7 linked regions of the Homo sapiens genome follow. Changing the gene in region 1 together with any one later gene gives a genetic interaction. Each region holds a gene or a part of one and is shown in the gene's direction. Other genes may lie near its edges.

Evidence for each region.
Region 2: changes in UTP4 (region 1) and XRN2 together harm fitness more than expected from each alone (negative genetic interaction), as found in Homo sapiens cells (one large-scale study listed by BioGRID).
Region 3: changes in UTP4 (region 1) and EXOSC2 together harm fitness more than expected from each alone (negative genetic interaction), as found in Homo sapiens cells (one large-scale study listed by BioGRID).
Region 4: changes in UTP4 (region 1) and RPL35 together harm fitness less than expected from each alone (positive genetic interaction), as found in Homo sapiens cells (one large-scale study listed by BioGRID).
Region 5: changes in UTP4 (region 1) and MFAP1 together harm fitness more than expected from each alone (negative genetic interaction), as found in Homo sapiens cells (one large-scale study listed by BioGRID).
Region 6: changes in UTP4 (region 1) and EGFR together harm fitness more than expected from each alone (negative genetic interaction), as found in Homo sapiens cells (one large-scale study listed by BioGRID).
Region 7: changes in UTP4 (region 1) and ANAPC13 together harm fitness more than expected from each alone (negative genetic interaction), as found in Homo sapiens cells (one large-scale study listed by BioGRID).

What each region holds. Positions count from the first base shown.
Region 1 is NC_000016.10:69,163,649-69,166,584, forward strand, and holds part of UTP4 (U3 small nucleolar RNA-associated protein 4 homolog), read left to right. Parts: intron 1-1,692; coding exon 1,693-1,878; intron 1,879-2,936. UniProt on the Homo sapiens protein: Ribosome biogenesis factor. Involved in nucleolar processing of pre-18S ribosomal RNA. Part of the small subunit (SSU) processome, first precursor of the small eukaryotic ribosomal subunit.
Region 2 is NC_000020.11:21,309,831-21,313,330, forward strand, and holds part of XRN2 (5'-3' exoribonuclease 2), read left to right. Parts: intron 1-3,500. UniProt on the Homo sapiens protein: Possesses 5'->3' exoribonuclease activity. May promote the termination of transcription by RNA polymerase II.
Region 3 is NC_000009.12:130,692,382-130,696,579, forward strand, and holds the start of EXOSC2 (exosome complex component RRP4), read left to right. Parts: upstream 1-1,398; 5' UTR 1,399-1,410; coding exon 1,411-1,532; intron 1,533-3,110; coding exon 3,111-3,212; exon of another isoform or gene 3,213-3,225; intron 3,226-4,198. UniProt on the Homo sapiens protein: Non-catalytic component of the RNA exosome complex which has 3'->5' exoribonuclease activity and participates in a multitude of cellular RNA processing and degradation events.
Region 4 is NC_000009.12:124,859,158-124,863,122, reverse strand, and holds the start of RPL35 (large ribosomal subunit protein uL29), read left to right. Parts: upstream 1-1,165; 5' UTR 1,166-1,210; coding exon 1,211-1,213; intron 1,214-1,567; coding exon 1,568-1,704; intron 1,705-2,858; coding exon 2,859-2,940; intron 2,941-3,965.
Region 5 is NC_000015.10:43,807,691-43,811,190, reverse strand, and holds part of MFAP1 (microfibrillar-associated protein 1), read left to right. Parts: intron 1-1,276; coding exon 1,277-1,436; intron 1,437-3,500. UniProt on the Homo sapiens protein: Involved in pre-mRNA splicing as a component of the spliceosome.
Region 6 is NC_000007.14:55,204,017-55,207,516, forward strand, and holds part of EGFR (epidermal growth factor receptor isoform a precursor), read left to right. Parts: intron 1-1,239; coding exon 1,240-1,601; 3' UTR 1,602-3,500. UniProt on the Homo sapiens protein: Receptor tyrosine kinase binding ligands of the EGF family and activating several signaling cascades to convert extracellular cues into appropriate cellular responses.
Region 7 is NC_000003.12:134,477,206-134,480,095, reverse strand, and holds the end of ANAPC13 (anaphase-promoting complex subunit 13), read left to right. Parts: intron 1-1,380; coding exon 1,381-1,506; 3' UTR 1,507-2,390; downstream 2,391-2,890. UniProt on the Homo sapiens protein: Component of the anaphase promoting complex/cyclosome (APC/C), a cell cycle-regulated E3 ubiquitin ligase that controls progression through mitosis and the G1 phase of the cell cycle.

The sequences.
Region 1 (2,936 bases):
AATTTGTAAGGAGATTGTGATTATAAGGAGATCTTTAAAAAAAAAAAAACCTGGGCTGCGGAATATATTAGGAAGTTATCAATAATTATATTAGGAAGTTATCAATAATTCATCTGTAAAATTGGAGATGTTAATATCTACCTCACTGAGCTGTTGGGAAGATTAAATGTAATCCAGGAAGCACATTTAAGTAGAGTGCTAGGCAAATGATGCTTACTGCTTTGATGGTCAGTTTGTTTTTTTTTTTTTTTTTTTGAGACAGAGTCTCGCTCTGTCGCCCAGGCTGGAGTGCAGTGGTGCGATCTCCGATCACTGCAAGCTCCGCCTTCCGGGTTCATGTCATCCTCCTGCCTCAGCCTCCCGAGTAGCTGGACTACAGGCGCCCGCCACCATGCCCGGCTAATTTTTTGTATTTTTAGTAGAGATGGAGTTTCACCATGTTAGCCAGGATGGTCTCGATCTCCTGACCTTGTGATCCGCCCGCCTCGGCCTCCCAAAGTGCTGGGATTACAGGCTTGAGCCACCGCGCCCGGCTGATGGTCAGTTTTTACACTCACACATGCACACACACACTGTCCAAAAAGTGAAATCTCTCAGTTTTATAGATTTGAGTCCTTGACCAAAGACTGAAAGAGTAGTGAAGCCACACATCTTTGCCTTTGTCACACATAATGATAATTTCCCCCATGACACCTTTTACTGGCACTTAGTCCCTTAAGTGCTTCTGAAAGTAAAACTGATGGGAAGTTTTTTATATCTGTTAGATTAGCAAAGATCAAAGACTTGATAATATACAGTGTTCTGAAGGTATAGGGAAACAGTACTCTCACACATTGTGTAAATTATCCTAACCCTTTTGGAGGACATGTTGGCAATACCTTAAAAATTTTAAAGTCCACATGGTCTTTGACTTAGAAATTTCAGTTCTAATCATTCTTTATATATATATATATATATATATATATATGTATATATATATCTGTATATAGATATATATGCTTCTAGCTGTGCAAAAAGACATTTATACAGAGACAGCTTTGTTTGTAGTAGACAAAGATATGAAACAAGCTAATGTCCATTAAGCAGAGTGGATAAGTAAATCATGATACATGGACAAAATGAGTGGACTATTCTGTGTTTCAGAATGGGCATGACCGATATATATGTGTATTAATGTGGGTCAGTCTCCGTGATATAACACTGAGCAACAAAAGCAAGATACAGAACGCTATGTATTATGTGCATAAAATAGCTCTGAAAAGATGGGCAGGGCGCGGTGGCTCACGCCTGTAATCCCAGCACTTTGGGAGGCTGAGGCGGGCAGATCACGAGGTCAGGAGATCAAGACCATCCTGGCTAACACAGTGAAACCCCATCTCTACTAAAAATACAAAAAATTAGCCGGGCGTACTCGTGGGCGCCTATAGTCCCAGCTATTTGGGAGGCTGAGGCAGGAGAACGGCTTGAACCGGGGAGGCGGAGCTTGCAGTGAGCGGAGATCACGCCACTACACTCCAGCCTGTGTGGCAGAGTGAGACTCCATCTCAAAAAAAAAAAAAAGTGTTGGGAGAGCATAGAATGAATATAATACAGTTGAAGCTTTGTATAGATACTTTCTGGTTAGGGATGAGAATGCCCTTCTGGTCTTTCTGAGTACCAGCCTGCATTTCTCTATGTCATGTCCTCCCTCAGGTATTTGAGTACAGCATCCCAGACAAACAGTATACAGATTGGAGCCGGACTGTCCAGAAGCAGGGCTTTCACCACCTTTGGCTCCAAAGGGATACTCCTATCACACACATCAGTTTTCATCCCAAGAGACCGATGCACATCCTTCTCCATGATGCCTACATGTTCTGCATCATTGACAAGTCATTGGTGAGTTCTTCACTGCTACCTCCCAAATCTTCTTCTGAATCTTAAAGTTCTAAAAGCAACAAGTACAATAAGGTAAGAGGACAGAGACTCAGAATAAAGGTAGCTAGTAAATCAGAATACAGGTAGCTAGTACATTTCTTGGAGGAGAGGGGCTTTTGTTTTACAGATTCCCTGGTTTGTGTTCCCACAGTTCTTCGGGAGGCTCTCGGGGAAGGGGCTGGCCTTTGTATACTGGCTTTTGCTGATTTGACTATTTGTCTACTTTGCGAGTAAGCACATAAATCTTACACAGAAAAGTGATTAGGCCAGTATTCGGAAGGTGACCCTCATCCGGAAGTATCATTGATTTGGCTAACTTGCTTTCAACTTTGAACTCTGGGGTATCTGAATAACCTGGTTTCATTAAAGGAGGTACAGGCTGAGGTTTTGACCTCTGTGCCCCTTCGCTAAAGCTACTAAAACGCTGTCTGCAGGCTTGAGGAACTGGTCTTAACATCTTCGAAAAACCCAGCTAGGAAAATTCTTCATGGCTGTGATTTACATGGGATACGAGCATTTTCTTCAGTTTTAGATTCTGTCCTCTTTGCCAGCTGCTGTTTTGATTCACCCTGAATTTGTATGGCTTTTCTGGGCAGGTGCTTTGTTTCCTAGGAGCATTGTGGCCATGCCTGTCCTGCACTTTGGGCTTAGATTACAACCATCACACGGTGTTTTGGTGTGTTTGTGAAGGTGGGGGTGGAAGGAACATGGGGGAAAGCAGCAGATGGCTCTAAAGGAGGTGTGCACGGGGATGTGTCACTGGAATCATCTCGTGGGCCCTGCGACCTCTGGGTGTGGGAAGCAGAGCTGGCTGACAAGTGCCTTCTGCAAGATGAGTGATACAGGAAGGGCCCCTCCCACTCTCTTGCCTCTTTGTAATTGAGCCCAGATCATTTTTTCCAAAGCATTGGCTTTAAGTTCATCGCTTCCTTACAGTAGGCATAGCTATTTCCCAGGAAGTCAGAGACAAAATATCATTTCTTTGGCCAGAGGCCACCTCGAGGTGTCAGTGACATCAG
Region 2 (3,500 bases), on another chromosome or scaffold:
TCCTGATACTTGTAATTCTACTTTCTTTGTTTTGTCCCATTATCAGTCTGGCTACACTGTTCTCAGATAACTAGCTTTTGGTTTCATTGATTTTCTTTATTGTTTTTCTGTTTTCTATTTCTTTGATTCTGCTCTTATATGTATTTGTTATGCTTACTTTGGGTTTAACTTGTTTTTTCTCTTCCTTGTTTATTAAGGTAGAAGCTGAGGTCATTGTTTTGAGACATTTCTTCCTCTCTGATATAGATCTTGAGTGCCATAAATTGCCTTCTAGATATTGTTTAAACAGTGTGCCACAAATATTAACATGTTGTATTTTCATTTTCATCCACTTAAAAATATGTTCTAAAACTCCCTTTGGCCCGCTGGTTATTTAAGAGTGTGACTTAATTTTCACACACATGGGAGATTTTCCAGGTATTTTTTCCTGTTCGTGATTTTTAATTTAATTCCCTTATCAGAGATCATATTTAATTTGAGGTCTGTTGAAGTTTATCAGACTGGTTCAGAATATGGTCTCTATAAATGTTTTATGTGTATTTGAAAAGGATACATTTTCTGCTGCTGTGAAATTTTGACTATAACTTTTGGATTTTTCTGTTTCTCCTTTCAGTTCTATTGGTTTTTGGTTGTGTATTTTGAAGCTCTTTTATTAGGTGCATAAATGCTTAACATTGTTCTAGTTTTTTGGTGGATAATACACTTATTATGAAATGACCTTCATTATTCTTGGTTAATATTTGCTCAGAAATCTATTTTATTTGTCATTAATACAGCCAGTTATTCTGACTAGTGTCAGCATGGTGTGTTTTTTTCTATTCTTTTATTTTAGCCTGTTTGCATCTTTATGTTTAAAGTGGACGTTTTTGTAGGTAACATAACAATTGGGTCTGGCTTTTTTTTATTTTTATTTTTTATTTTTTATTTTTTTTGAGATGGAGTCTTGCTGTGTCGCCCAGGCTGGAGTGTAGTGGCGCGATCTCGGCTCACTGCAAGCTCCGCCACCCGGTTTCATGCCATTCTCCTGTCTCAGCCTTCCGAGTAGCTGGGACTACAGGCGCCCGCCACCACGCCCGGCAAATTTTTTTGTTTTTTTTTAGTAGAGATGGGGTTTCATTCACTGTGTTAGCCAGGATGGTCTTGATCTCCTGACCTCGTGATCTGCCCGCCTCTGCCTCCCAGAGTGCTGGGATTACAGGCGTGAGCCACTGCGCCTGTCCGGGTCTGGCTTTTTTATACAGTTTGAGAATCTCTGCCCCCTCTTTTTATTGGGATAAAACATACATAAAATTACCATTTTGACTGTTTTAAAGTGTACAATTCAATGGAACCAAGTATGTTCAAATTGTTGTGCAACTGTCACCAATGTCTATTTCCAGAACAATTTTATCATCCCAAACAGAAACGCTACCTGTTAAACAGTAACTCCTTGTCCCCCTCCCCACTTTCTATCTTTATAAATTTGCCTATTCTAGTTACCTTATGTAAATGAAATCATAATATTTTTCCTTTTGTGTCTGGCTTATTTCTCTTAACATAGTGTTTTCAAGGTTTGTCCATGTTGTTGCATGTCTCAGAATTTCATTCCTTTTTAAAGCTGAATGATACTCCCATTGTATATGGGAGTATATGTCACACTCTGGACACTTTGGCTGGTTCTACCTTTAGTCTATTATGAATAACACTGCTATGCACATTGGTGTACAAGTATCTTTTTTAGTCCCTGCTTTCAGTTCTTTTGAGTATGTACCTGTGAGTGGAATCATTGGATCATGTAATTCTGTGTTTAGCATTTTGAGGAACCACCAAACTGTTTTTCTAGTCTGCTTTGTAATTGGGCCATTTAGAACATTTATATTTAAAATGATTATTGATGGCCAGGCATGTTGGCTCACGCCTGCAATCCCAGCACTTTGGGAGGCCAAGGAAGATGGATCATTTGAGGCCAGGAGTTCGAGAGCAGCCTGGACAACATGGTGAAACCTCGTCTCTACTAAAAAAGTAACAAAAAAAAATTAGCTGGGCATAGTGGTACAACACCTATAAACCCAGCTACTCAGGAGGCTGAGGCACAAAATCACTTGATCCTGGGATACTGAGATTGTAGTGAGCTGAGATTGTTCCACTGCACTCCAGCCTGGGCGACAGAGCGAGCCTCTGTCTCAAAAGACAAAAAAAGATTATTGATATGGTTAGATTTAAATCTGTCATCTTACTATTTGTTTTCTGTCTCATCTGTTCATTGTTTCAGTTTCTTAAGTCTTATGCCTTCTTTTAGGTTGTGTTTTTTTTTGTCTTTTTGAGAGGAGTTTCACTGTGTTGCCCAGGCTGGAGTGCAGTGGCGCGATCTCAGCTCACTGCAAGCTCTGCCTCCCAGGCTCACGCCATTCTCCTGCCTCAGCCTCCCGAGTAGCTGGGACTACAGGCGCCTGCCACCATGCCCAGCTAAGTTTTTGTATTTATTTATTTTTTTTTAGTAGAGACAGGGTTTCACCGTGTTAGCCAGGATGGTCTCTATCTCCTGACTTCCTGGAATTACAGGTGTGAGCCACCGTGCCCGGCCTTAGGTTGTGTTTTTATGATTTCATTTTATTCCCTTTGCTCACTTATTAAGAACTCTTTACTGATTCAGTCATCAGCTTCTTCACTTCATATACTTTAACTGCTTGGCTCATGCAGTCCTCCATTTATCAGCTTTCTGACCATCGGAAAATGACTTAAATGCCTAAACTCTAGAGAGCCAGAGCTTCTTGTTAAAACCAAACCCCAAGATTTTTTTTTTTTTTTTTTTTTTTTGAAGACAGAGTCTTGCTCTGTTGCCCAGGCTGGAGTGCAGTGGTGCAATCTCTGCTCACTGCAACCTCTGCCTCCTGGGTTCAAGCCATTCTTCCTCAGCCTCCCAAATAACTGGGACAACCAGTGTGCACCATGACGCCTGGCTAATTTTTGTATTTTTAGTAGAGGTTTCACCACGTTGGCTAAGCTGGTCTTGAACTCCTGACCTCAGGCGATCCGCCTGCCTCAGCCTCCCAAAGTGCTGGGATTAGAGGCGTGAGCCACCATGCCTGGGCCCTAGATAAATTAAATAACACAGTTCAATTGAGCAATGAACAGTTTGCCAGTTGAGTGGCCCTCAGAACCAGAAGAGGTTTGGGGAGCTCTTGAAAACAGAAGTGAGGTACAGAAACAGCTTAATCTTTTGGCTTATTTAAACATGGCCAGATAAGTTGGCAACCTGTGATTGACTGAAGCTCGACTGCTGCGATTGGCGGAGACTCTGCTTTTTGTTACAGAAGTATGCTCCTAAGTTAGGCTTTTCCTTAGTGGACTTTATGTAAGTAATATTGCAGTTCTTCAAGTGAAGAATCAGTAAGGAGCCATCCTCAGGCCAAATTTGGTGTAAGTTAACACACTACGCTACACTGTGCTGCTCCCTACAGTTTCCCCCTCTGGTCATCTCTGTGCAAGGGCTGAAAGCAGAAGGCTGCGTGTCCTCATTT
Region 3 (4,198 bases), on another chromosome or scaffold:
GTGAACGCTGTGAGAATGCGCGGGGTAAAGGCGACGTCTCTCCCTCCCGGGAAGAACTTGGATGGTGTCAGGCCTACACTCTCGCTCCGCCTAGGGCCGCTCGCTGGGCCTGGCTCCCCGGCTGCCGGGCTACGCGAGCTCAGAGGACACCATCGCCCTCTTATGGCCGCGGCAGGACTGGACCGAGGGGCTGGGCTCTAGTGCCTTCCTCCAGGCACGGCAGAGGGCGAGGGTCTGGCAGCCCGCTTACCCAGGGCCTCGGGGCACTAGCATTCATGTCATCGACTGCCTGGCAGGGCTGGCTTTCTTAAGTGTGGTCGTGAGACTTGCTTAAGTGGAAGAAATGCTGTCGCTTTGGAGATTTATAAAACAATTGGCTCGATGGATCTTTCTTCAGGAGGCGGACTTGGTTTACCGGCTTTACTGACCACAGCTGATGCCAATGATTTCATTTAATCGTCTTTAGAGTCCCTGTGCATGGGGAGTTACCATCCCCAATTAGTTTCTTGTGAATGCAGGGCAAGGAGAGGGAGAGGGTAGTGGGGGACGGGGAGAAGGGGCGAGGGGTACCCTCCTATTAAAACGGAGCCGCAGAAAAACCCACAGAGACATCCGTCTGTTCCCCGCTGAGTCCTTAGAACAGCGCCTGGCACACAGAGAGCGCTCAACTCGCTGTGTAACTAAATGCAAGCCAAGATCTTCGCATTGTGTGTGCTCTTCCCTTCCCTACCAAATATACCTGGCTTGCAAGGTTTGACCTGTTTTCTTAGACGATTTTTAACTTGTTTCCAAAAGAAATATTGGAGTAAATTAGCTTGTTCAAAGGAGTCCTTATGAAAGGACAGAACCAAGTGAGAAGTATCTGGAGCCCGGTTTGGGGTTATAGATGATGATGTTGAGCCAGCACCCACGGGGCGGCCGCAATGTAGAATCCTGGCGCTACTGGGAACCGTGTGGAAAGGGGCTCTTCTTTCTGTTCAAATAGTGTTTTCTGTAGATCCCATCTCTCCATCCTCCTGAGCTCTCTCTTACAAAATATCGGATTTCAGCAGCTTAGAATTGGACAGAAACTCAGAGGTCCGTTTCTCAATTATCTCTAACCCTGGTAAACAATAAATGGGATGATGAGTACAAGACAGTTTTGGTAAAAAGTCACACGCCACACAACGTGAGATTTTATTATTCCACGGGTGCTTCCTTGCCAATAGTAGACATGGCAGCTCGGCTCCCTTCCCTTCGGGTTCGCCTTATTGTTGCCAATTGTAAACATGGCCTCTAGGCCGTGAGTTCTCATTGGCAGCTGCTCTGAGTCCCCGCCCTTCCCCGCCCCTCCGAACGCGGCCTGGAGTTGTGGAGTCGGATATCGCAGCTCCCGACTGAGCTGCGCCTGCGCAACTCATTGGCGCCAAGATGGCGATGGAGATGAGGCTTCCAGTGGCTCGCAAGCCTCTTAGCGAGAGACTGGGCCGCGACACTAAGAAACATCTAGTGGTGCCGGGGGATACAATCACTACGGACACAGGATTCATGCGGTACGTGGGGACTTGGGGGAGTCGAGGCTTCAGAGAGCGGCTTCAGGGCTCTCTGCACGTGGTCCAGGCCTCGTATCCCTGTGTGTGTAACTCCCCGCGGGACCCAGGGCACTTCGTCTGAGCATCCTACACACCTCGCTTCCGAGCCTCGTGCTTCTTGCTCCCTGCATCTTGTGTGTCCCCGTCTGCATTTGTCTCAGCTCCCTGAAACCCTCCACTCCTGACCTCCGGTGGCTGTGACTTTTGGGTCTTCTGCCTGAAGTCCAAATCTTTGATCCTTCCTTGTGGGAGACCTGGAAAGCTGGGGAGGGTTAGGTGCAGGCTCTTTTCCAGTTTTCAGCTCTCTGAGGGGACGGTGGGCGTTCTTGGCTGCCTCCTCTTCAGTTTAGAATCCGTAATTGTTCGATCTTAGGGCAAACAGTTACATTGTGCTGCATGCACCCATTTATACACATTTTGAATCTAAGGGGTGTAGTGCAGTGTATTGTGGTTAAGAGGGAAGGCTCTTGAGTCAGACAGTTGGGGTTCCGGTCCTGCTACCATCACATCTTATTAGCGGCATTGCCTCTCCACGGTCAGTTTCCTCATCTGTAAGATAGTGATAATAACAGTATGATACGGTAATGAGGATTAAATGAGACAATTATGTAAGAAAAGAAGTAAAACCAGCCATTATATCATCATAGATAACACTAGTGTTTCAACCTTTATTATTATTATTTTTTTACTTGTATATGTACAAGGGGCACAGCATTCATAGCATTGCCCTTTAACCTGTTAGTTTAAGGTTAGTGGATACCAGGAAATTTTTTTTTCTTTTTTGAGACGGAGTCTGTCTTAGATCAGTCGTGCGATCTCGGCTCACTGCAACCTCTGCCTCCTGGGTTCAAGTGATTCTCCTGCCTCAGCCTCCTGAGTAGCTGGGATTACAGGTGCACGCCACCATGCCTAGCTAATTTTTGGTTTTTTTTTTTTTTAGTAGAGACAGGGTTTCACTGTGTTGGCCAGGCTGGTCTCGATCCCCTGACCTCAAGTGTGATCTGCCCGCCTCGGCCTCCCAAAGTGCTGGGATTACAGGCATGAGCCACCATGCCTGGCCCCTAGGAAATCTTAAGATTCATTCTTTCATTAATGCTTTCAACATATATTTTGTGCAGTTGGGTTATTATGGCAGAGTGAAAAATCTCTGTCCTGGTGGAGTTCTAACAGGGAGAGATAGATAATAAGCGCAATGAATAAGTTATTCAGAATGTTAGGCAATAATGCAATAGGGAAAAAAGTGGAGCAGGGTCAATGGTATGTGGGGGGAATGGTGGCAACAGGGTGGGCTGTGTTTTCAATGGCACAGTCAAGGTAGGCCTGCTGCAGAAAGTGACACCTGAGCAGACCTGAGTGAGAGGAGTGATGTCCAAGTAGCTGTCTGGAGAAGGAGCACTGAAGGCAGAGGGAGCAGCCAGCACAGAAGCCACGCTTTGCAGGGGGAGCCTGTTAGCTTTGAGGAACACGTTGTTCTTGAAGGGAGAGAAGTCATTTCGAGTTACCCTCGTATCCTTTCTTTGTATCTTCGCCTTGCATCAGGGGCCATGGAACGTATATGGGAGAAGAGAAGCTCATTGCATCTGTTGCTGGCTCTGTGGAGAGAGTAAACAAGTTGATCTGTGTGAAAGCTTTGAAAACCAGGTGAGAACAAAAGGTGTGTATTCCCTTTCTTGCAGCATCAGGTTGTACAACCAGGCTTTTCCTGCCCCCTCCTTATCCCCCACCCCACCCCTGCCTGCCCTGTCATGCTGTAAGTCTGAGGTTTTGACCATGACTGTAGGTGGGGTGGTGCAGATCAGTGCAGGCTTCAGAGGTTTCCCCATGTTATGTCACCACTCCAAGCCTTGGTTACCTCCTCTGCAAAGTGAGTATAATAGCATGGCCTACTTCATAGGATTTTCTCTTTTTTTTTTTTTTTTTTTTTCCGAGATGGAGTCTTACTCTGTTGCCGAGGCTGGAGTGCAGTGGCGTGATCTCGGCTCACTACAACCTTCGCCTCCCGGGTTCAAACAATTCTCCTTCTTCAGCCTCCCGAGTAGCTGGGATTACAGGCGCCCTCCACCACGCCTGGCTAATTTTTTTCGATTTTTAGTAGAGACAGGGTTTCACCATGTTGGCCAGGCTGGTCTCGAACTGCTGACCTCTGATGATTTCCCCCCACTTGGCCTCCCAAAGTGCTGGGATTACAGGCGTGAGCCACTGTGCCTGGCCTAGGATTTTCTTTAGAATTCAGTGAGATGGTGCCTGTAAAGTATTTAGCACAGAGCCTGATACCTAGAAGCATTCAATGAAGGTTAGCCCCAGAAAGCAAGCCAGTGGGGTTGGAACAGAGTGAGTGAGGGGGAGAGAAGGGGCAGATGTAAGCAGAGAGCTGAGGTGGGCGGGCGTGGGCCTGCCTTGTAGCCAGAGTAAGCATTTTGGCTTCTACTTTGTGTAATCTGGGAAGCACTGGAAGGGGTGGAGCAGAGGAGGGACTTGATCTGGACTTAAGCTCACTCTGGCTGCTGATGGGAGATTGAAGGGGGATAGGGCAAGCTTAGGGAGGTGGATTAGGGACCATACTCATGATCTGAAGTGATGGTGGCTTCAACTAAGGTGGGAGCAGTGGAAGGTGGAGGAGTGATTGG
Region 4 (3,965 bases), on another chromosome or scaffold:
CGAGGTGGCTAACCCCTGTAATCCTAGGCACTCTGGGAGGCCGAGGAGGGCGGATTGCTTGAGCCCAGGAGACCACCCTGGGCAACAGCTCTACAAAAAATAAACAAATTAGCCAGGCCTGGTGGCTTGTGCCTGTAGTTTCAGCTACTCGGGAGACTGAGGTGGGAGGGCTGCTTGAACCCGGGAAGCGGAGGTTTTGGTGGGCGGAGAGCGCGCCATGCCTTCCAGCCAGGGTGACAGAGCGAGACCCTGTCTGAAAAAAAAAATTAAAAAATAAAAAAAATAAATAAAGGCTGGGGCCAGGCGTGGTGGCTCACGCCTGTAATCCCAGCACTTTGGGAGGCCGAGGCGAGGGGATCACCTGAGCTGAGGAGTTCAAGATCAGCCTGGGCAACATGGCGAAACCCCGTCTCTACTAAAAATACAAAAAATTAGCCAGGCGTGGTGGTGCATGCCTGTAATCCCAGCTACTCAGCTACTCGGGAGGCTGGGGCAGGAGAATCGCTGAACCCGGGAGGCGGAGGTTGCAGTAAGCCGAGATCGCGACACTGCACTCCAGCCTGGCACCCTGGGCGACAGAATGAAGCTCTGTCTCAAAAAAAAAAAAAAAAAAAAAGGTGTAAATGCTCTTTGCAGTTCCATATACTGCCTCCCCAGAACCTTTATGGAGTTGGATTATAACTGCCTGAGCCCGCCCCTCCCGTCCATCTCGCGCTTTAAATTCCTCCGCGACGTGAGCCTCGGTTAATCGTCTTTGAAAACTCTGGCCCCTCCTCCCGTCAGCACCCCCAGACTACTGGCGCCCAGCTCAGAGTTGCCCAGATTGGGAGATCTGCAAGGTTTCCCGAAGGAATGAATGAACGAATGACTGAATGGACGAATTTGAGTCCTCCGTGTGCCATCTCTGGTAGCTGCCGCCCACGTTGGGCCTCGGTTTCCCCAACTGCGCGCCTACACCGTGACGCCGACCTCGCTATCAGGGGTGCCGTGAATGAGGCGAGCACTACAAGGCGGGGCTCCGGCCCTACCAGGCGGGGCGGGCAGTACCACGGCGTTCCTCGGGGGCGGGGGAGATGAGGCGGAGCCGGGGCTCCCCCGCTGCGGCGCCATTGGCCGCGCCCGCCGCCACCCGGCAGTAGTTGCGGAGGTCAGCCCCGCCTACTTCCTCTTTCCCTCGGAGCGGGCGGCGGCGTTGGCGGCTTGTGCAGCAATGGTGAGAGCTGCGGAATCGGGCGCCATCCGAGCGCTGTGAGGCGCGGGGGTTGGGGAAGGCGGTGCGGGCTGAGCCCGCGGATTCTATCTGCCACCTAGGCCTGTGGGGCGCCGCGCAGAATGGTCTGGCGCCACCACAACCCGCCTCTTCGCTTGGCGCCGGGAGAGGCGCGCGGCCCGGGCCTGGGTTACTCTGCCCAAGGCACGGCCGGCGAGGGAGACTGTCCTGAGCCCTGGTTGGGGCTCCGGCGCACTCGTAGTCGATGGCGAGTCGCGCGCCTTTGGGGGCTGGCCACGCAGGTGAAGGGGATATGGCCCCGCGGCCTGGCTGAGGCACACTCTCTCTTGCGCGCAGGCCAAGATCAAGGCTCGAGATCTTCGCGGGAAGAAGAAGGAGGAGCTGCTGAAACAGCTGGACGACCTGAAGGTGGAGCTGTCCCAGCTGCGCGTCGCCAAAGTGACAGGCGGTGCGGCCTCCAAGCTCTCTAAGATGTAAGTGAGGCGGCCGGATCACAGCCCTCGTGGGTGGGGAGCACGTGTGCATCGGGATCGTCGGAGGATTTCAAAGTTGGCTTAAGGAGCTGGCCGCTTAGATGCCCACTCCGTGCATCCTGGCGCGCATGGGAGACCCGTTGTGTGCTTAGCCTCTTACCTGCCTTGACCTTGCGGTCCTTGTGCCTGGAATGCATCCCCGGAGACCCATCTTAATGCTGCCTTCAAAGCCTACCCGGACCCCTTCCTTCCGCTTCCCACCAACACTTGAGTTTTTAACCCCCTTGGCAGGTGGGTGGCTTGCACCCTGGAGTGGCAGCGTAAGTTATTTTACATGGCTAAGAGTGCGGGAGACTTGTGAAAGGAACATGGGTTTGGAGTTCATCAACCTGGGTACAAAGTCCACTTCTCAAAAAAAAATTAGATGGGTGTGGTGGTACAGGCCTGTAGTCCCAGCTACTCTGGAGGCTGAGGCAGGAGGATCACTTGAGCCCAGGAGTTGGGAGGCTATGATGGGGCCACTGCTCTTCAGTCTGGTTGACAGGTGAGACCCTGTCTCCAAAAAAAAAAAATGGTGGTTGCCCTCTTTGCCCCCAAACAACCTTAGTAGAGGCAGGGGTGGGAGGATTGGACAAGCACAGTTGCACACTGAATCCTCAAAAACCATGTTGACCAGCTGTCTACTAGGTGACTCCCTCATCCTGACATGACTACAAATAACTTCTCCCTGGCTCGTTGTTTGCTTCAGTCTCCTGGCTTGTAGTGACTCCACTTTGCAAATGTCTTGTTTCTCTCTCCTGCAGTTCCCTAAGCTAGCCTGATTGCCTGGTTTGTGGCATGATTCCTTCCCATCAGCTCATTGAAATTGGCATTGGTTGGGTCTTAGCCCTCAGGATAAATTCGTGTTCTGGGATTGAAGGTCTTTTTCTGATCTGCCTCATTTATCCAGCCTGCACTTCCTCATAAAGCCTCTGCTGTCTCTCCCATGCCCCTCTCTTCCCTCCTCAGACCTCACTCCCAGAACGCCTTCCTCCTGAGTGAATATGGATGGGTTGATGGGGGAGGCTGCAGCTATTGCTGCCCTATGTGTGAGTCCTGAGTCTTGGGTAGTGCTATGTGTCTTCCCTATCTTCACTGACATCTCTGTTTTGTAGCCGAGTCGTCCGGAAATCCATTGCCCGTGTTCTCACAGTTATTAACCAGACTCAGAAAGAAAACCTCAGGAAATTCTACAAGGTGAGTCTGCCTGGACATAGGGAGGGTTGGCTGCAGGAAGCCAAGTGCTAGCCGTCCCTGGCCGGGGACATGGTAAAGAGGTTTTTCTTGGTGCGTGGGCTGAGAGTGGTTAGCCTTCCCAATTTGTTGCTGGGCTCACTCTTCTACCAGTGTCTTGCACTGGCACGTGGCTCTGCAGACCACTTCCTCAGGCTGCAGATGTCAAGAATTCATTGGGGCTTGGGGTGTCCTGGCTGGAGACTCAGTTTTTGAAACCAGCCTTCCCAGTTGAGTGGCTTGGGCAGTGATAGGACTGGCTGTTGAAGGTTTTCACTGCCTCTTACTGGCACTGGGTGTCAGTCCCTGCCAGGCACCTGCCATGCTCATTTTTCAGATGAGGGCCCTGAGGCCTAGACACCCACAGTCAATGGCATGATGGGCCCTGGTTCCAAACCTTACCTTGGGGAGGGTCGGCTTTAGTGTTCTGGGAGGTGTGCACAGGTGTCTGGCCCCCTCTTAGTCTTGAATTTTGATAACCATTTTCTGGTCTTGTCCTTAACATTCATCTTATTGGGGTTCAAGCAGAGAAAACTAGGGGGAGACGGTGTGTGCACATGCATCCAATGTATTCTGAAGAATGGGCATAGGTGATTGTGGGGGCTGGCTGGGACTCAGGGCTCAGGTTGAAGCTGCTGTTCCCAGTGGGTACTTGGAGGGAGCCTCAGCCCTGTGCTTAAGACTTACAGCTGATTGGATCGGGCCTTCTGGGATTACCCAGGATAATCTCCCCTAAAGTTACCTGATGAGGGTCTTTAATTTCATCTGCAAAATGGTTCCACATCACTACCCAAATTGTGTTTGAATAACTTGAAGATTTGACACAAGGGAAAAGCAGCCATGGCTGATGAAGTGCCACAGGCCTATAACCCCAGCTACTGGGAGGCCGAGGCAGGAGGATGGCTTGAGCCCAGGAGTTAAAGTGTAGCCTGGGCAACATAGTGAGGCCTCATCTCAAAAAAATGAGAAGGGCCATAGTGTGGCTATGT
Region 5 (3,500 bases), on another chromosome or scaffold:
CACCCACCTCGGCCTCCCAAAGTGCTGGGATTACAGGCATGAGCCACCACGCCTGGCCCTCAGCCTGTAGTTTCTAAGATTTTTATCCTGGACCTGTAGGAGTAGGAGTCTAAGTGCCCTTTAAAATTGTACACAAGGCCGGGCGTGGTGGCTCACGCCTGTAATCCCAACAATTTGGGAGGCCGAGGTGGGCGGCTCACAAGGTCAGGAGTTTGACACCCGCCTGTCCAACATGGTGAAACCCTGTCTGTACTAAAAATACAAAAATTAGTCGGGCATGGTGGCACACACCTGTAATCCCAGCTACTCAGGAGGCTGAAGCAGGAGAATAGCTTGAACCTGGGAGGCAGAGGTTGCAGTGAGCCAAGATCATGCCACTGCACTCCAGCCTGGGCAACAGAGCAAGATTCCATCTCAAAAAAATATAAAATTGTACACAAAATTGTGTGTATGTATGCATTTTATTTGGAGACAAGGGATATCACTCCCTCTCCCCAACACTGGCTAAAAAGTTACTGCAATCTGGCTGGGCGCAGTGGCTCACGCCTATAATCCCAACACTTTGGAAGGCCAAGGCGGGCGGATCACGAGGTCAGGAGATTGAGACCATCCTGGCTAACACGGTGAAACCCCGTCTCTACTAAAAATTCAAAAAGATTAGCTGGGCATGGTGGCGGGCACCTGTAGTCCCAGCTAATCGGGAGGCTGAGGCAGGAGAATGGCATGAACCCAGGAGGCGGAGCTTGCAGTGAGCCAAGATCACACCACTGCACTCCAGCCTGGGCGACAGAGCAAGACTCCATCTCACCAAAAAGAAAAAAAAAAAAAAAAGTTACTGCAATCTAATTAATGATGGTAATCTTTGGTTTATGACATGCAAGCACCTATATGATTATGATACACTTACATAAAGGAATACCAGCAAAGCCTCAGACACTTATTTTAAATTCACTGATTTTTTTTTTTTTTTAAAGCTAAGAAGACCTTTTAGGGAAAGAGAATTTGTAATGTTGGAAAACCCAGCAGTAATAGTATGTCTGAACGTCAGAAGGGCTAGAATCAACTTTTGAAAGTTGGCAATACCTAGTCTAGCAAACATAATGAAGACTAACTCACCCATTTGTTTATTGAGCTCCTTATCTTGATTCCTAATAGGCAATGACTAGAATTAAAGAAGGTGACTAATACTTGAAATGACATGGGACTGTTATTTTCAGATAATTTGGTCTTTCTGAAGCTGTAACAGTACCAATAAATTGTTTTGCTCCCTGGACAGGCTTGAGAAGGAGAAAGCAGAAATTGAACGCATGCGAAACCTGACTGAGGAAGAGAGGAGAGCTGAACTTCGGGCAAACGGCAAAGTCATTACCAACAAAGCTGTTAAGGGCAAATACAAGTTCTTACAGAAGTATTATCACCGGGGTGCCTTCTTCATGGTAAGAAGTGAAAAGAGAGTCAGAAAATTGGGCAGTAGGAATAACTCAGAAACTTTGAATTATTTTTCTCTTCAAGAATATTCTGGAATGTAATTTCCACTTGCCAGTGGTCAGCTTTCTCATTTGCTTTTTCCTTCTGAACAATATAAACTCAGAGAAAAGCATCAGCAATTGGATGACAGAAGTAGCATCAACTGTTCTCTCTTTTGGCCCCAACTCTCAAAAATAGGAAATGATGTAATAGACTTTTTTTTTTTTTTTAAGAGACAGAGTCTCGCTGTCACCCAGGCTGGGGTACGGTGGTGCGATTATAGTTCACTGCAACCTTGACGTCCTGCGCTTTACACCTGCTTCAGCCTCCAGAGTAGCTGGGACTACAGGCATGCAACAACCATGCCTGGCTTTTTTTTTTTTTTTGGTTATTTTTTTTTTAATTTTTCGTAAAGACCAGGTTTCACTATGTTGCCCAGGCTGGTGTTGACCTTCTGGCCTCAAGCAATCCTCCCACCTCAGCCTCCCAAAGTATTAGGAATACAGGCATGAGCCATCATCCCCAGCCTTAGATAAATTGAGGAAATGAAATAGAGAAGTGATCTGTACAGATAGTGGACTAATTAGGTCCTCCACATGACATAGTTGTCATTCTTTCATAGCTGAATGAGAAGTTTTGGTTATGTGAAAACCAAACTCTGCAAATAGCTTTACATTAATTCACTTTTGGGTGGCAGAAAGTTAGTTCACTTCATTCTGAACTGACAGTACCCAAGAGTAACTAACCAAAAAAAATGGTTTATTATCTAACCATTAGATGGAATGCCGTCATCTTTGTTTTTCATATAAAGACTAAGATCAAAATAGCAATCTGTTAACCCTGTATGGTTTATTTCCTAATGTTAAAGCAGTTTGCACCAAAAACTAGACTAGCTTTTTCAAGTGCCGTGTGGCAAATTCTAAATATCCCCACTGCAACTAAATTCCTGCCTTTCACTGCAGATGCTGTTAAAACTTCAGTGGCGGCTTCCCTGCCACCCTCCAAAATCAGTTTCAGGTCTATCTGATTAGCAGGAAGTGTTTACTTAGGTAGTTTTCCAGCAGATGTAGCTTACTATTCAGTGGAGATTATGAACTACTTCTTGTACTGCTTCGGTCATAAAGTTTGTTTGCTTAAGCAGTTCGCAGCTTTAATAATCAAGTTTCTTAGAGAAGCAGTTCATTGCTAGTTAAGATACATAAGAAAAGTGTATGTGAAAGTCCTTTGGTGGGCCAGGTACATTGGCTAATGCCTGTAATCTTAACATTTTGGGAGGCAAGGCCAGCAGATCAGTTGAGCCCAGGAGTTCAGCCCGGGCAACATGGCAAAACCCCATCTCTACAAAAAATACAAAAATTAGGCGTGGTGGTCCGTGCCTGTAGTGTCACCTATCAAGGGGCTGAGGTGGAAGGATTGCTTCAGCCCGAGAGGTTGAGGCTGCAGTCAGCCGTGATCGTGCCACTGCACTGCAGCCTGGGTGGCTGACCAAGACTTTGTCTCAAAATAAATTGTTTTTAAAAAGTCTTTCTTAAACAAGATAGTGCTATTTTTAATTCCTTCAGCATATGTGTTTATAAATATGTATCACAGCATTGTAATATTATCACTCAGGCTAGAGTGCAGTGGTGCAGTCATGGCTCACTGCTGCCTCATTCTCCTGGGCTCAAGCAGTCCTCCTGCCTCAGCCTCCTGAGTAATTGGGACTACAGGTGTGTGCCACCACACCTAATTTCTATTTTGTAGAGATGGGTTTTGCTATGTAGCCCAGGCTGGTCTCAAACTCCTGGGCTCAAACTCTCCTTCCACCTTGGCCTCCCAAAGTGCTGGGATTACAGGCAAGAGCAACTGCATCCAGCCTTACTAATGTTGTTTATTTCATTGAGTAAGTAAGCTTTAGTGCATATACTATGCAAAGGTCACTGTTTAGCACTGTTAGCGAGAATACATAATCACTATAACATAAGTAAAAGTAAAGTACTGTAGGGGTTCTGACGAGAGAGATGTTATATTTGGTAGAAGATTGAAAGGGTTGA
Region 6 (3,500 bases), on another chromosome or scaffold:
TATGTTAGTGTAATATCTAATATATAGTTTATTGGCTATCTAATATAATATAAACAGATTATCAATATTATAAGCTATTAGAAAAATGCAAGTTAAGGCAGATGATATACCTCTTTACACACCAACTACACACACCAACTACACACACACATACACACAGACACACACGACACACACCATACACATGTACACACACACCACATATACACAAACGTACACACACACCACACACACATACACACCACACACACACCACACATACATACACATCCACACACCACACATGTACACACGCCACACACACACATACACACCACATACACATATGTATGCACACATACACACCAACACCACACAGACACCACACATGCATAAACATATAGACATATACACACCACACACCATATGTACACATGTACACACACACCACATATACACACAACACACACAAATACACACACCACACACACACCACAAAAACCCCACACACACACAAACATATACACCCCACACATACGCATATATACACACACACATACACACCACACACATACACACCACACACACACCACACATACACACACGTACACACACCACACACACACCACAGACACACACCACACATACATACACATACACACACCACACACACGTACACACACCACACACACCACAGACACACATAGACACACCACATACACACCCACACCACACACACACAACTCATACCACACATACATACACAATAGACACATACACACCACACACACCATACATACACACGTATACACACACCACATATACACACACGTACACACACACCACACACACCCACATGCACACACCACACACACATACAAATATACACCACACACACATACACCACACACACGGTGCACATACACACACATATACACACACCAGACACACATACCACATACACATCACACATATATGTATACATGCATACACATACACACACACATACACACACTCTCCTCAAGGCAGTTTATCCTCTGAGAACTTTAAATTTACAAAAGACACATATGTCCATTACTTTGAGAAGGACAGGAAAGAACCCACTTTCTTTTGCAGCAACAGCAAGAGGGCCCTCCCGAGGCTCCTGCTCCCTGTCATAAGTCTCCTTGTTGAGGACATTCACAGGGTTCAGAACCCAGGGATCCTGCATGGGATGGTGCTTTGCTGATTACTTCACCTCTGATTTCTTTCCACTTTCAGAATACATAAACCAGTCCGTTCCCAAAAGGCCCGCTGGCTCTGTGCAGAATCCTGTCTATCACAATCAGCCTCTGAACCCCGCGCCCAGCAGAGACCCACACTACCAGGACCCCCACAGCACTGCAGTGGGCAACCCCGAGTATCTCAACACTGTCCAGCCCACCTGTGTCAACAGCACATTCGACAGCCCTGCCCACTGGGCCCAGAAAGGCAGCCACCAAATTAGCCTGGACAACCCTGACTACCAGCAGGACTTCTTTCCCAAGGAAGCCAAGCCAAATGGCATCTTTAAGGGCTCCACAGCTGAAAATGCAGAATACCTAAGGGTCGCGCCACAAAGCAGTGAATTTATTGGAGCATGACCACGGAGGATAGTATGAGCCCTAAAAATCCAGACTCTTTCGATACCCAGGACCAAGCCACAGCAGGTCCTCCATCCCAACAGCCATGCCCGCATTAGCTCTTAGACCCACAGACTGGTTTTGCAACGTTTACACCGACTAGCCAGGAAGTACTTCCACCTCGGGCACATTTTGGGAAGTTGCATTCCTTTGTCTTCAAACTGTGAAGCATTTACAGAAACGCATCCAGCAAGAATATTGTCCCTTTGAGCAGAAATTTATCTTTCAAAGAGGTATATTTGAAAAAAAAAAAAAGTATATGTGAGGATTTTTATTGATTGGGGATCTTGGAGTTTTTCATTGTCGCTATTGATTTTTACTTCAATGGGCTCTTCCAACAAGGAAGAAGCTTGCTGGTAGCACTTGCTACCCTGAGTTCATCCAGGCCCAACTGTGAGCAAGGAGCACAAGCCACAAGTCTTCCAGAGGATGCTTGATTCCAGTGGTTCTGCTTCAAGGCTTCCACTGCAAAACACTAAAGATCCAAGAAGGCCTTCATGGCCCCAGCAGGCCGGATCGGTACTGTATCAAGTCATGGCAGGTACAGTAGGATAAGCCACTCTGTCCCTTCCTGGGCAAAGAAGAAACGGAGGGGATGGAATTCTTCCTTAGACTTACTTTTGTAAAAATGTCCCCACGGTACTTACTCCCCACTGATGGACCAGTGGTTTCCAGTCATGAGCGTTAGACTGACTTGTTTGTCTTCCATTCCATTGTTTTGAAACTCAGTATGCTGCCCCTGTCTTGCTGTCATGAAATCAGCAAGAGAGGATGACACATCAAATAATAACTCGGATTCCAGCCCACATTGGATTCATCAGCATTTGGACCAATAGCCCACAGCTGAGAATGTGGAATACCTAAGGATAGCACCGCTTTTGTTCTCGCAAAAACGTATCTCCTAATTTGAGGCTCAGATGAAATGCATCAGGTCCTTTGGGGCATAGATCAGAAGACTACAAAAATGAAGCTGCTCTGAAATCTCCTTTAGCCATCACCCCAACCCCCCAAAATTAGTTTGTGTTACTTATGGAAGATAGTTTTCTCCTTTTACTTCACTTCAAAAGCTTTTTACTCAAAGAGTATATGTTCCCTCCAGGTCAGCTGCCCCCAAACCCCCTCCTTACGCTTTGTCACACAAAAAGTGTCTCTGCCTTGAGTCATCTATTCAAGCACTTACAGCTCTGGCCACAACAGGGCATTTTACAGGTGCGAATGACAGTAGCATTATGAGTAGTGTGGAATTCAGGTAGTAAATATGAAACTAGGGTTTGAAATTGATAATGCTTTCACAACATTTGCAGATGTTTTAGAAGGAAAAAAGTTCCTTCCTAAAATAATTTCTCTACAATTGGAAGATTGGAAGATTCAGCTAGTTAGGAGCCCACCTTTTTTCCTAATCTGTGTGTGCCCTGTAACCTGACTGGTTAACAGCAGTCCTTTGTAAACAGTGTTTTAAACTCTCCTAGTCAATATCCACCCCATCCAATTTATCAAGGAAGAAATGGTTCAGAAAATATTTTCAGCCTACAGTTATGTTCAGTCACACACACATACAAAATGTTCCTTTTGCTTTTAAAGTAATTTTTGACTCCCAGATCAGTCAGAGCCCCTACAGCATTGTTAAGAAAGTATTTGATTTTTGTCTCAATGAAAATAAAACTATATTCATTTCCACTCTATTATGCTCTCAAATACCCCTAAGCATCTATACTAGCCTGGTATGGGTATGAAAGATACAAAGATAAATAAAACATAGTCCCTGATTCTAAGAAATTCACAATTTAGCAAAGGAAATGGACTCATAGATGCTAACCTTAAAACAACGTGACAAATGCCAGACAGGACCCATCAGCCAGG
Region 7 (2,890 bases), on another chromosome or scaffold:
GAACAAGATGTATGTGATTCAAATATAGATAAGTAAATATCATTTAATATATATTGAGCATAATTTTAGAGGGGAAAACATATTCACATACTACAAATTAGAATCCAGTGGAAAATTTTAAGTCTGGATATCGCATAACAGTTTGCTAACCATAAAACAAAACACAGATAATTGAAAAGAAATATATTGGTATCTGTGAACTCTGGTACAAAGCAGAGTTTCAGTAGTAATACATTTAAACTTAAAATACAAGTAAATGATCCCAGATCCTACAGTAAGTGTGGCCCATGACTTACCATTTTAAGAAAATTGCTGGTAGGGTGTGAATTGGTCATTTGTTGTGTTTTTTGTTGCTCTGCTCCACCACTAGAGGGAGGTCTTATCTATTAATTACATTTTCAGTGTTTCCTGCCCTACCTCCATTTTTATTATAATATAGACATGTTGGGCCAGGCGCGGTGGCTCGCGCCTGTAATCCCAGCACTTTGGGAGGCTGAGGCGGGTGGATCACCTGAGGTTGGGAGTTCGAGACCAGCCTGACCAACATAGAGAAACCCCATCTCTACTAAAAAAAAATAAAAAAATACAAAATTAGCCGGGCATGGTGGTGCATGCCTGTAATCCCAGCTACTCGGGAGGCTGAGGCGGGAGAATCGCTTGAACCCGGGAGGCAGAGGTTGTGGTGAGCCGAGATCACGCCATTGCTCTCTAACCTGGGCAACAAAAGCAAAACTCCATCTCAAAAAAAAAAGACATGTTGGGTCCAAGATAATTTTTTGGATACATTTCTTGTGTCTAAGGAATATGCCAGCAAACTAGTATTCTTTTAAAGCACGCTCCCGCTAAAGAAGATTTAGGATTCACTCATCTCAGTGTTCCTAGCCGCTAATAATAATAGCAAATATTCCTTGAGCACTGGATACCCCACAGAGTGCTCAGCACTTGATCTGAATTACCTCACCTAATCCTTACAGTAGTCCTGTGAGGTGATGGCTCTTTTGTTCTCCCATTTGCCAAGGAAGAAACAAAGGCCCCAAGGGTTTGCATACCTTGCCCAAGTAACCCAGCAAATGGGAGAGTTGTGGTCTTGGATCCTAGTTGGCTTCCAAAAGCCTCTGCCCTTAACCTTTCTGCCACAGTGCCTCCTTCACAAATGTCAGAGTCAAAATGCCCATCATTCCCTACTGAAGAAGGCCCGGGCCATGTTTGAATGATACTTCTGATAGTTTCCTCACGTGTATGATTTTAGCTTTTTTAGAATACACATATCAATTATGTTGCCTGTTCCTAGGAACTCACAAGCTTTAATTCTAAGTGTTCTTGAGTTCCAAGAAGATGCAGAATATATTACTGTTCTGAATTTCTATTGTACCTTTTCAGAATGAGCTTCCTGAACCTGAACAAGACAATGGTGGCACCACAGAATCTGTCAAAGAACAAGAAATGAAGTGGACAGACTTAGCCTTACAGTACCTCCATGAGAATGTTCCCCCCATTGGAAACTGACGCTTGGCTCCTTTCTTGTGGATGGATTTTCTCAAAGTACACAGATAAAGCATGGTTTGTTTCAGTCTCCAAATTCAAACCTTTGAGTAATAAATCAGCACTCAAAAATGTACACCCATTTAGTTTGTGGTAGCAAAGTGCAATGCGAAATTGAATGAGAAACTGAGATTTCTCAGTAATGGTGAATATTTCGCTCTTTAAACCTAAAACTCTTCATTGAGTAGCTTATATTTGAACATGATTGGTTAAACATTTGCCTCTACCTCTGATTTTGCTTTGCTGTCAAAGTTTAACACCTTCCAACTACTTATGTGTGTCCTGTAACACAGGTGATTGAACGTATGAGAGGGAAAGGCAAAGAAAAAGGAAGCCAGACACTAGGAGAATTATTAACTTCTCATACTTCCCCACATTGAGAAGCATTCGGAGTGTATTTAGCCTGTAGATGTTGTGATATGCAAATATCCCATTCCCTGGTTACTGGCATTCCTAAGATTCTTCATGGTATTTTCAAACTTTGGATAAATTTACAGATTAGAAAGATATCTGACAGTTAATCTCTGTTCTCCTTACAAATTCCTTTTGTGCTGCTGGAAAGGATCTTTGGCTAGGTGGATGACTAGTTTTATTCAAAGCCTTTTCTCAAAGCCCTTTCAGTTACAACCACCCCACTATGGAATCAGTATTTAGTTATACATTTGTATAAGAACCTGTATTTTGAAAAACACATTCATGTATATTTATTCCTGGAATTATTTGCCTGTTAAACAGTGTCTTTCATGTTCTCTCCCCAGATTGTAAACTCTGTAAGAAGCTGCTTGTATCTGTATCCCTTGTTGAAACTCTGAAAACACTGAATAACTAAAATCTCTTCTCATCCTTTTTATGCTGGGTCTTTTTGTTTACTTAGCTTTTAGGAGGAAGAGGTACATGAAAAAACAAATTAGCTTATTTTAGGTTTTCAATCACAAACATGATTTTAGCAGCTATCCTATAATCCAGATACATCCAGGCTGATTTCTTCTCTTTGCATCAGTAGTTCTGCCTAGAAATCTTTTATCTTCAGAATAAAGACCCCAAGGCACCAGTCCCTTCAGTAAGCAAAGAAAGACAACCTAATAGAAAAGAGACTTACAATATTAAAAAAACTTATACAAGAGAAAAAGCTTTTCAAAAAATTAAAATACCTAGAACGCCACAGTTCTTTCACATTCTTGTTAAATGAGGATTTTACAGCTTACTTGTGGTATGTAATCTCTGAGACACTAACATCTAAGAACTTGACAAATGTTCATGTGAATCCTGCCTAGCCTTTCCCTGGAATATTAGTAGACCAGTAAAATATGAAAGCTATTCTTGATTTCTGCTGAACCAGAATATGATA